2 separate regions of the Homo sapiens genome follow, and region 2 is linked to region 1. Evidence: fine-mapped expression QTL. A gene starts in region 1. The other region holds a variant in brackets. All regions are shown on one strand. Distances are between the middles of the regions.

Evidence for each region. PIP is the estimated chance that this variant, and not a neighbour inherited with it, causes the effect.
Region 2: its variant is the best candidate, but not a certain one, in a credible set for the expression of NDUFB5 in lung (TOPMed, PIP 0.56).

The regions. Positions count from the first base shown.
Region 1 is chr3:179,602,006-179,607,005 of GRCh38, forward strand. It overlaps NDUFB5 (NADH:ubiquinone oxidoreductase subunit B5), which reads left to right and starts at 2,789. Exons shown (of 6, transcript NM_002492.4): 1 at 2,789-2,934. The coding sequence starts at 2,811. MRPL47 (mitochondrial ribosomal protein L47) reads right to left here and starts at 2,633. Exons shown (of 7, transcript NM_020409.3): 1 at 2,522-2,633; 2 at 647-792. The coding sequence starts at 2,619. RefSeq lists enhancers at 1,923-2,789, 2,715-2,914, 2,790-3,656, 3,095-3,254, 3,285-3,374.
Region 2 is chr3:179,551,454-179,556,986 of GRCh38, forward strand. No RefSeq gene overlaps it. Among named protein-coding and RNA genes, the nearest start is that of ACTL6A, 8.7 kb to the right of the region's middle. The variant A/G (reference allele first, on the strand shown) is at 3,336.

The sequences.
Region 1 (5,000 bases):
ATTAGTACAGAACGTATTTTCACACCCTAATGACAAAATACTTTGTCATTATAAATTAACTGGGGCGGTGGTTCACACCTGTATTCCCAACGCTTTGGGAGGCCAAGACGGCGGGCATCACCTGAGTTTGGGAGTTCAAGACCAGCCTAACCAAGATGGCGAAATCCTGTCTCTACTTAAAATACAAAATTAGCCGGGCGTGGTGGCACGTGCCTGTAATCCCAGCTACTCAGGAGGCTGAGGCAGGAGAATCACTGGAATCCGAGAGGCAGAGGCTGCGGTGAGCTGAGATTGTGCCACTGCACCCCAGTCTGGGCAACAAGAGCAAAACTCCATCTCTAAATAAATAAACAAACTTTAAATTATCATTAAAAAATAAAATCTAAAATAAGCCCTAAACCTTACTTTAGTTAATAATTTCAGCCTATTCCTTATCTAACCATCTTGCCAATCTGCCAAGGAACAATTAACTCTACTATTATATTGTCCCTTTAATTTTCTCTAGTAGACAGTCTCAAAGAAAACTGAAAAAGGAAACATCTAAATAATTCCTAAACTGGATATATAATCCTAGAACGATGGTTGGGCGGGGCGGGGGGGGGGGTTCCATAAATATATCTAATGTTGACAAATCCAAGTATCTCACCAGATTTTACTTTTTCTTGCCCCCAGTTTTTTGGGTCATCAAAAAATTCTTCTAGTCCTTTCCTTGACAATGTGGTATGAAGTAATCTATATTGGTGAAAGGATGTCACATTTGGTGTACTCTTAGGCAACAAACTAAGAAAAAACCTGCAATTGAACACACATAAACAAGTAAAAGTTTTATAATATCTGGATTTTATAAGCAATAAACATTATCATAATAAACATAATCATTTTGTCATCGATAACATTTTAAAAAGCTACTCAGGGTTTCTGCACAAGAATTAATTTTTTTTTCTTATTTAGAGACTGGGTCTCACTATGTTGTCCAGGCTGGTCTCGAACTCCTGGGCTCAAGTGATCCTCCCACCTTGGCCTCCCAAAGTGCTGGAATTACAGGGATGAGCCACCATGCTTGGCCACAATAAATTTTGAAAATGCTTTAGAAAGTATTGTTAATACTGCATTATAGAAGCTGCTACCTTATAATTTCAGAGGTAACATAGTTACACAATTATATTTTAAGGTAACATTTTTGGGTCCTTCTTACATTGCTAATGGGTGCAAGCGCAGGTAAAAAGAGCAGTCAATTTTGCAACATGTGGGCTGGGCACGGTGGCTCACACCTGTTATCCCAGAAATTTGGAAGGCCGAGGTGGGAGGATCACTTTGAGCCCAGGAGCTCAAGACCAGCCTGGGCAAGATGGCAAAACCTCATCTTTAACAAAAATACAAAAATTAGCCAGGCATAGTAGCACGTGCCTTATAGTCCCAACTACTCGGGAGGCTGAGGTGGGAGGACGCTTTGAGCCTGGGAGGCAGAGGTTTCAGTGAGCTGAGATCACACCATTGCACTCCAGCCTGGGCGACAGAGTCAGTCCCTGTCTCAAAAAACAAAAACAAAAAAACCTCACAATTTTGCAACATGTATCAGGAGCCTCAAATACTTCCTCCTTTAATTCAGTAATTCTGCATCTAGAAGTTTCAACTGAAAAAATTATTATAGATGGGAATTTATAAATTAAGATGTTTATTAAAGCACTATATAGGATGTCAAGTTTTTAATTATGTAAATACGCAGCTAAGAATGGTTTAAAAATTACTGTGCATCTGGATGATAAATTATTATGCAGTAATTCAAAAATCCTGTTTTTAAAAAATAGTTAACGACCTGAGATGATTTGAAACTAAATAATGAAGTTTATCACAAGTGTTGTATCCCTACCAAAAATATTTAGCCTAAATCTTATAATGAGGAAACAATCAGACAAATCCAAATGAATAAGATTCTTAAAAAGCTAATCTCATCAAAATGTCAACAACATTAAGAAAAAAAAAAAAAAGAAATTGTTCCGGATAGAGACTAAAGAGTCATGGCAACCAATGTAATAAATGGATACTTCACTGGATCCAGGACCAAGAAAAATAAATAAATAAAAGAAGTTACTAAGTTACCAGTTACTTTCATTGTAACACATCCTGTAAATACAAATATCTCTTCTTTTTTAATCCATCCAAACTTGACACAGACTTGAGTATCACAACAAAAACATCTTCGGTAAAGTTTTTCGCACCTCACCCAGCCCAAGAGGATGCTTCTGTACTTATAGATGTATTTACTTCAACAAATGCTGGACATCTACAAACCCCATATACTGTCTTGTCCACAGCAGGCAGCAACAAAATGAGGAAGGAATAGAAATGTCGGAGGTGAGCGACTTCTCCAAGGTCACTCACTCCTCACCAAAGTGGGCTCCGGCTCTGCCATCCAGGCGGCCGTTCCATTCTTGAGTTGTTCTCGGCATCTCGGCATCTCGGCAACCAAACAAGATCCAAAGTTGGAGAGGTGGGCAAACCTACTTTATACATCACTTACCCTGTGCAGGCAGGGACCTGAGGAGTTATTAACGATCGGGAAGATTTCAGGGCGGATGAAACTCTCCTACAAAGAAGGGCCAAACCGGCCGCAGCCATGTTTTCGCATAACTGGCAAAACGCGTTTCCGCCAACGATAGCGTCACTTCCGGCGTCTCAAGCCGGCGGTGAGGAGAATAGAAAACTTGCCCTCACTTAAGATGGCCACATCCTGCCTTTGTCCTCATTGGTAAATTGGCTCTCTCAGCTTCCGTGACCCGCCTCCCTTCTTCCTCCTGCCCGTAGTAGCCATGGCGGCCATGAGTTTGTTGCGGCGGGTTTCGGTTACTGCGGTGGCAGCTCTGTCTGGCCGGCCCCTTGGCACTCGCCTCGGATTTGGGGGCTTCCTCACTCGTGGCTTTCCGAAGGCTGCTGGTGGGTGCTGGCCTAGGGAGAACGGGCGTGAAGCGGGTGCGGGGCGAGAAAAGGGAGGACGCTTCCAGGGTGACCTTGGTGGGATCCGGAGGGAGCCGGGACAAGTTGTGGGCTTGGGGCTTGACAGGAGAGACGGAGCACGAGCTATATGAGGGGTTTTCCTGAAGTAGCCAGATAGATCGTGTTTACATTATTAGCATTTCTAAAACGTTGTTATTCACCATCCCAATTAATGCTAATTTGCGGATGAAGCTGAGTCTAGAAAGGTATAGAGCTGAGATCTGTATCTCTAGGGCACAAGCTTATTGTTGCGTTCCACCTGCCCAAAGGCTAGGTTCTAGTCCCACAGATGCAAAGTCATCTTGCCGAGAAGCCCACCTATGCTAAGGAATATGAAGACAGGTAATATGTAGACAGGTAAAGAGGCTCAGGGCCAACTTATTCTTTAGGCACAGTAAGTACCGTGCCGCCCAATAATGAGATGCAGATGAACTGGGGAGGAAGAGAGGTTTTTGTTTTGTTTTGTTTTGTTTGTTTGTTTTTTGAGACAGAGTCTCACTCTGTTGCCCAGGCTGGAGTGCAGTGGCGCGATCTTGGCTCACTGCAACCTCCGCCTCCTGGGTTCAAGCGATTCTCCTGCCTGAACCCATGATAGTTTTAGGGGTCTACGAAAGTCTTTTAATTTAAATTTCTTTTTTAAAAAAACCATAATGTTTATGAATATGATAACGAATCCAGCCTGTATTATGTTCGTTTTATACCAATGCAGTCATAAAATATTATTTTTAATAACTTAGACGAAGGGGCCCTTGAAGGCAAAAGTGCCTAGGTCTCAGGAAAGTCATAATACAGTCTTTTTTTTTTTTTCTTTTGAGACAGTCTCACTCTGTCACCCAGGCTGGAGTGCAGTGGCACCATCTTGGCTCACTGCAATCTCCACCCCCCGGGTTCAAGCGATTCTCCCGCCTCAGCCTCCCCAGTAGCTGAGGCTACAGGTGCACACCACCACGCCTGGCTAATTTTTGTATATTTAGTAGAGATGGGGTTTCACCATGTTGGCCAGGCTGGTCTCGAACTCCTCACCTCAAATGATCCGCCCACCTCAGCCTCCCAAAGTGCTGGGATTATAGGCGTAAGCCACTGCACCTGACCAATACAGTCTTAATAGGGCTATTTGGACCTCCTTGGAGACAGTGAGTTGCATCATGGCGGTGTGAATAATCATAGCAAAGATCAAATGCTTGATATTCAGTGTACTTTATTATCTCAGAGACTCTGCAAAGAAATTACAATGTTATTTTCATTTTACAGATGAGGAAACTGACTCAATTATTAAATAATGTGTCACTAAATAATAGCCAACATTTACTGAGCACCTGTTACGTGTCAAGCATCCTTTTTTATTTTTATTTTTTTCAAGACGGAGTCTTGCTCTGTTGCCCAGGCTGGAGTGCAATGGCGTGATCTTGGGTCACTGCAACCTCTGCCTCCTGCGTTCAGGCGATTCTCCTGCCTCAGCCTCTTGAGTAGCTGGGATTACAGTTGCACGCCTCCATGCCCGGCTAATTTTATGTGTTTTTAGTAGAGATGGGGTTTCATCATGTTGGCTAGGCTGGTCTCGAACTCCTGACCTCGTGATCCACCTGCCTTGGCCTCCCAGAGTGCTGAGATCACAGGCGTGAGCCACCCCACCTGACCTCAAGCATCATTTTAAGGGTTTAAAGTATTAATTTATTTAATCCTCTTCATTAGATATATACTGTAAGCTATTTGCCCTGTGCAATAGAAGCAGGTAAAGAGGAAGTGAAACACTTAAAGTCAGAAAGTTGTCTCCAGCCTCAAAATATCTTGTTCTCTTTTTACCCCTATTCTCCCAGTTTAATTTGAATTATGCCACTCCACAGGATGAGGCAATATACATAGGGATTTGCTGGAAACATGATGCAAAGAACCAGTGGTATTTAACAAATTTCCAGCAGGAATTTGAACTTGTTACAAAACTACATTCCTTGATGAAAATCCCTTTATAAGCCATTTCTGATTACAGATATTCTCATATAGCCAAA
Region 2 (5,533 bases), 50 kb before region 1:
AAAAACAGTTCCTATGAGTTCTGGGGCTATTTTAAAAAAGTGAGCCATTCCTTTTTTTTTTTTTTTTGAGATGAAGCCTCCCTCTGTCGCCCAGGCTGCAGTGCAGAAGTTGGATTACTTGATATGTACTGGAGATTGAGGCCTGCAGCTGCAGTTGCCCGCTATTTCAGGCATACAATTCATCTTGTAAACAGATGACATAAATCTACAGTGTCTATAAATACATTTACAGTACTGTAAACGTATTTTTCTCTTCCTTAAGATTTTTTTAATTACATTTTCTTTTCTCTAGGTTAATTTATTGTAAGAATACAGTACAAGCATATAAAATATGTGTTAATCAACTATTTACATTATCCATAAATAGTCATCAGAAAGCTGTTAGTAGTTAACTTAGGCTAACCCTAACCCCTGCATTGTTCAAGGGTCAACTGTAGTTCTTACAGCTATTAAAAGCATCAGAGTTGTTCCCATTGTGCCAATTGGGCTGTAGTAAGAAACACAGAGTAGCAATGCTCCTGGAAGTTTTTGGTGTCTGTCTCCAGGGACATACAAACAAAGAGATTCTGAAGGATTCCACATGATATCCCTTCTGAAAGGTTCTTGAGTAACACTTGAGAGTAACATTTGTGAGTGTGTTGGTTTTCCCCAAGAAAGCTTATTTTTAGAAATTTTACCTAAACTTGCTCTATTTTACATTATTATCACTAAGATCATAATCACAACTTTTATCTAATTTTTTTTTTTTTTTGAGACAGAGTCTTGCTCTGTCACCCAGGCTGGAGTGCAATGGTGTGATCTTGGCTCACTGCAACCTCTGCCTCCCAGGTTCAAGCGATTTTCCTACCTCAGCCTCCCAAGTAGCTGGGATTACAGGCGTCCGCCACCACACAAGGCTAATTTTTGTATTTTTAGTAGAGATGGGGTTTCACCATGTTGGTCAGGCTGCTCTCGAACTCCTAACCTCAGGTGATCACCCGCCCACCTTGGCCTCCAGAAGTGCTGAGATTACAGGCGTGAGCCACTGTGCCCAGCCTTTTTTTTTTTTTTTTGAGACGGAGTCTCGCTGTGTCGCCCACGCTGGAGTACAGTGACACGATCTCGGCTCACTGCAAGCTCCGACTCCCGGGTTCACGCCATTCTCCTGCCTCAGCCTCCCGAGTAGCTGGGACTGCAGGCGCCCGCCACCACACCCGGCTAATTTTTTTTTGTATTTTTAGTAAAGACGGGGTTTCTCCATGTTAGCCAGGATGGTCTCCATCTCCTGACCTCGTGATCCGCCCGCCTTGGCCTCCCAAAGTGCTGGGATTACAGGCGTGAGCCACCGCGCCCGGCCCAGCCTAATATTATTTTTTAAACTGTGGTTTATTGCAAGCTGCTGACCCTGAGCATACAACAGGAATAAAGCAAAGAAAACTAGGAAAATATGTAAATTTTGACAAGTATAAAGTACAGACGAGCATTGAAAAGAAAGAGACAAAAGTGATTGTATATAACTAGTAATATGTACATTTTAAAATGTTTCATTTTGTACCATAAATTTGTTTTAAGATGATTGCTTTTTAAAAAACATTTAGGCCAGGCATGGTGGCTCACGCCTATAATCTCAGCACTTTGGGAGGCCGAGGTGGGCTGATCACCTGAGGTCAGGAGTTCGAGACCAGCCTGGCCAATATGGTGAAACCCTGCCTGTCTCTACTAAAAATACAAAAATGAGCCGGGCATGGTGGCAGGCATCTGTAGTCCCAGCTACTCAGGAGGCTGAGGCAGGAGAACTGCTTGAACCTGGGAGGCAGAGGTTGCAGTTAGCCAGGATCGCACCACTGCACTCCAGCCTGGGTGACAGAGTGAGACTCTGTCTCAAAAAAAAAAAAAAAAAAAAAAATTTAAACTTTTATACTAAGAAAAGCTTTTACAATCCCAGGTTGAGGTTTTAGTCCTTAGGCTAACATTTCGGTACATATTACATCAGGCTTTTTTCCTTTGCTTATATTATCTGCTTATCTATATAAAGATATAGATATAATTTTACATATAGACATATATAACTATATTTTAATATATAATTACATGTAGTTACACACATAATATATAATAATTATATATAATTATGTAGTTACACACAGTTTTATTTGTATAATTTTTACACATAACTTTTAATAAAATAACAACATACTCTATAAATACACAATCTGGTTTTTTGGGTTTTTTTTGAGATGGAGTCTCTTTCTGTCGCCCAGACTGGAGTGCAGCAGTGCAATCTCAGCTCACTGCAACCTCCACCTCCCAGATTCAAGCGATTCTCCTGCCTCAGCCTCCGGAGTAGCTGGGACTACAGGCGCCTGCCACCACACCCAGCTAATTTTTTTGCATTTTTAGTAGAGATGGGGTTTCACCTTGTTGCCCAGGCTGGTCACGAATTCCTGAGCTCAGGCAATCTGCCCGCCTCAGCTTCCCAAAGTGCTGGGATTACCGGCGTGAGCCACATTGCCCAGCCTAATACTGCATTTTTACATTTGTTTTATTTCTCTTGACTGTGAATGGGGCCCATGTAAGATCTGTTTGTGTGTATAATAAGTTCTTATAAATTTTAACTTTTTATAATAGATTTGTGTATTACGTTAGTGAATGATAGCTGGTAACTGCATATATCTTATGCATTGATGACATGCCTTTTTCTTAACTTTTTGGATATGTCTAGGCTATGCAGTTCATTTGTCAGTCTTTTGAAACTGTCACTGATAAAAATTTTCCAATATATTTATTGAAAAAAATTCATGGCCAGGTGTGGTGGCTCACACCTGTAATCCCAGCACATTGGAAGGCGGAGGCAGGTGGATCACTTGAGGTCAGGAGTTCAAGACCAGCCTGGTCAACATAGCAAAAATCCGTCCCTACTAAAAATACAAAAAAAAAATTAGCTGCACGTGAGGGCACACGCCTGTAATCCCAGCTATTTGGGAGGCTGAGGTAGGAGAATCACTTGAACTCGGGAGGCAGAGGTTGTAGTGAGCAGAGACCACGCCACTGCACTCCAGCCTAGACAACAGAGTGAGACCCTGTCTCAAAAAAGCAAAAAACAAATAAACAAACAAAATCACATATTTTGAAACTGCACAGTTCAAATCCATGTTGTTCAAGGGTCAAGTGTATATGGAATGATCACAGGTTCTACTTGTAAATTATTCTTCTTGCTTTTGTCATCCAGTCTAGAGTCCCTATGTGCTTCTGGATCTGGCATACCACAGATAGTACAGAGGCTTTTAAATCCCTGTGGGAGTTTATCAAAGTCTGACAGTTGATATCCAAGGTGAGTGATCCTAGAGTATCATAAC[A/G]TGATTCTCTAGGTTATATGAGGTAAGGGGAGGAGTGGCAAGGAGAGTGTGCACTCAACAATGCTAACTTCGTAATATCAAGTAGGCACGATAGGCTGATTATGGCCTAATTTAATGCTCAAATTCTTCAATAATTTAGTTTTTCCTTCTGGATTATGACCATTTGGGGAGCAGGTTTTATTAGAAATTAACAAACACAATAGTAAGCTTAAATATAGGCTTTCGTCCAGTCAGTTTAGGTAGAGCTGGTAACTGGCATTTATTTGAATAATTTTGCAAAGACCAATGATTTTCATAACTAATAATTAATCCCTTCTCATTTGTATAGTGGTTAGTAAGAGGGGGAAAATAAAAATAATAATCTCCCTGCTTCTCATAGATTTTTCCTAAAAAAAAAAAAAAAAAAAAGAAAGAAAAAAACTTTCCCACCTCCCTCCACCTCCTGCTTAAAAAAAATAAGGGCTGGGCGCGATGGCTCATGCCTGTAATGCCAGCACTCTGGGAGGCTGAGGTGGGCGGATCACAAGTTCAGGAGATCGAGACCATCCTGGCTAACATGGTGAAACTTCGTCTCTACTAAAAATACAAAAAATTAGCCAGGCGTGGTGGCGGGCGCCTGTAGTCCCAGCTACTCGGGAGGCTGAGGCAGGAGAATGGTGTGAACCCGGGAGGCAGAGCTTGCAGTGAGCAGAGATCACGCCACTGCACTCCAGCCTGAGCGACAGAGCAAGACTCCGTCTCAAAAAAAAAAAAAACAAAAAACAAAAGAACAAAAGAAATGCCTTTTTCCTTCATTCCAACAAAACAAAACAAACTCTATAACCAATCCCTGGTTAGAAATGTAGCGCATACTACATGTTAGGTGTGGCAAATGACTTTTCTTTTGTTTACTATTGTTTTAATCATGTGTCAGGGTGGAGAGAAACAACTTTAAATGGAAGAAGGAATTGTGTAGTCACCACCCACATCTTCTCAAGCATTGGTGGAAGCCTCAGCCTAAGTGGATATTTGGGATCCATTCTTCAAGTAGCAACTGGAATGTGCTAGCAGCCACTTTCACATTAATGGGAGAACTGTTATAGCCCTTGAGTGAAAGCATGGCTTATTTCACCTAGTTTCCCTGGTGCCAGGCTTAGAGCAGAAGGTCAAAAAGTTAGCAGATCAGAAGTTTTGCTTGTAAATTATTCTGCTTCTTTTTTCATCCAGTCTTAGAGCCCCCCAAAATGCACTCTTGGATCTGGTGCACTGTTGTTGGTACGAACAGTAAATCACAGGCTCTACCTAAACAGCTAATGAATGAACAAAACATCTTATATAAAAGCTCCATCTTAACAGAAGTTTAAAAAAGTTCTGTGTTGGTGAGAGTTGGAGGAAAAAGTGTACTCCCAAACATATTATTGGGGAAATGTAAATTGTTTAAGTCCTGTGTAATTTGGCAATGACCATTACAATTAAAAATGTATATACCCTGTGACCCAGCAAAGTCTCTTCTGCTAATTCATCCTGCACAAAAACTCTCATATATGCGCAAAGAAAAGAATAGTCATTACAGCATTCTTTGTAATAGTAAAAGACTAGAAACAACTTAAATGTCTCTTCAATAGAGAACTGGTGAAATAAATCATGGCATATACAGGTAATAGAATTCTGTGCTGATGTTAAAAGGAATAAGAATTATACAGGTTGACATGGACTGACCTCCAAGATAATACTGTTAAGTAAACAAAGTCAAGTACAAAATCACTTGTTCAGTTATGTAAATAACAATAATGGGGGGAAGGAATATAAATATATGTTTCTATTTGAAAAGACTATCTCTGGAAGGTTACATAAGAAACTGGTAACAGTAGTTCAATTTGGGGAGAGGAACTGAGGAATTGGGAGGATTGAAAGAGGAGAAAGGGAGCTTTGTTTTTCACTGTTGTGTCATTTCAGTTTCTAGCCGTATGTATACCATTTAAAATTATTAAAATAAAAATGTCCAAAGTAAATATTTTAAAATTGATTTCCAAAAAGAATAATGCTTTTTTTTTTTTTTTTTGAGACAGCGTTTCTCTCTGTATCCTAGGCTGGAGTGCAGTGATGCGATCATGGCTCACTGCACCCTGGACCTCCCAGCTTCAAGTAATCCTCACACCTCAGCCTCTTAAATAGCTGGGACTACATGCATACACCACCAGCCTGGCTAATTTTTTTTA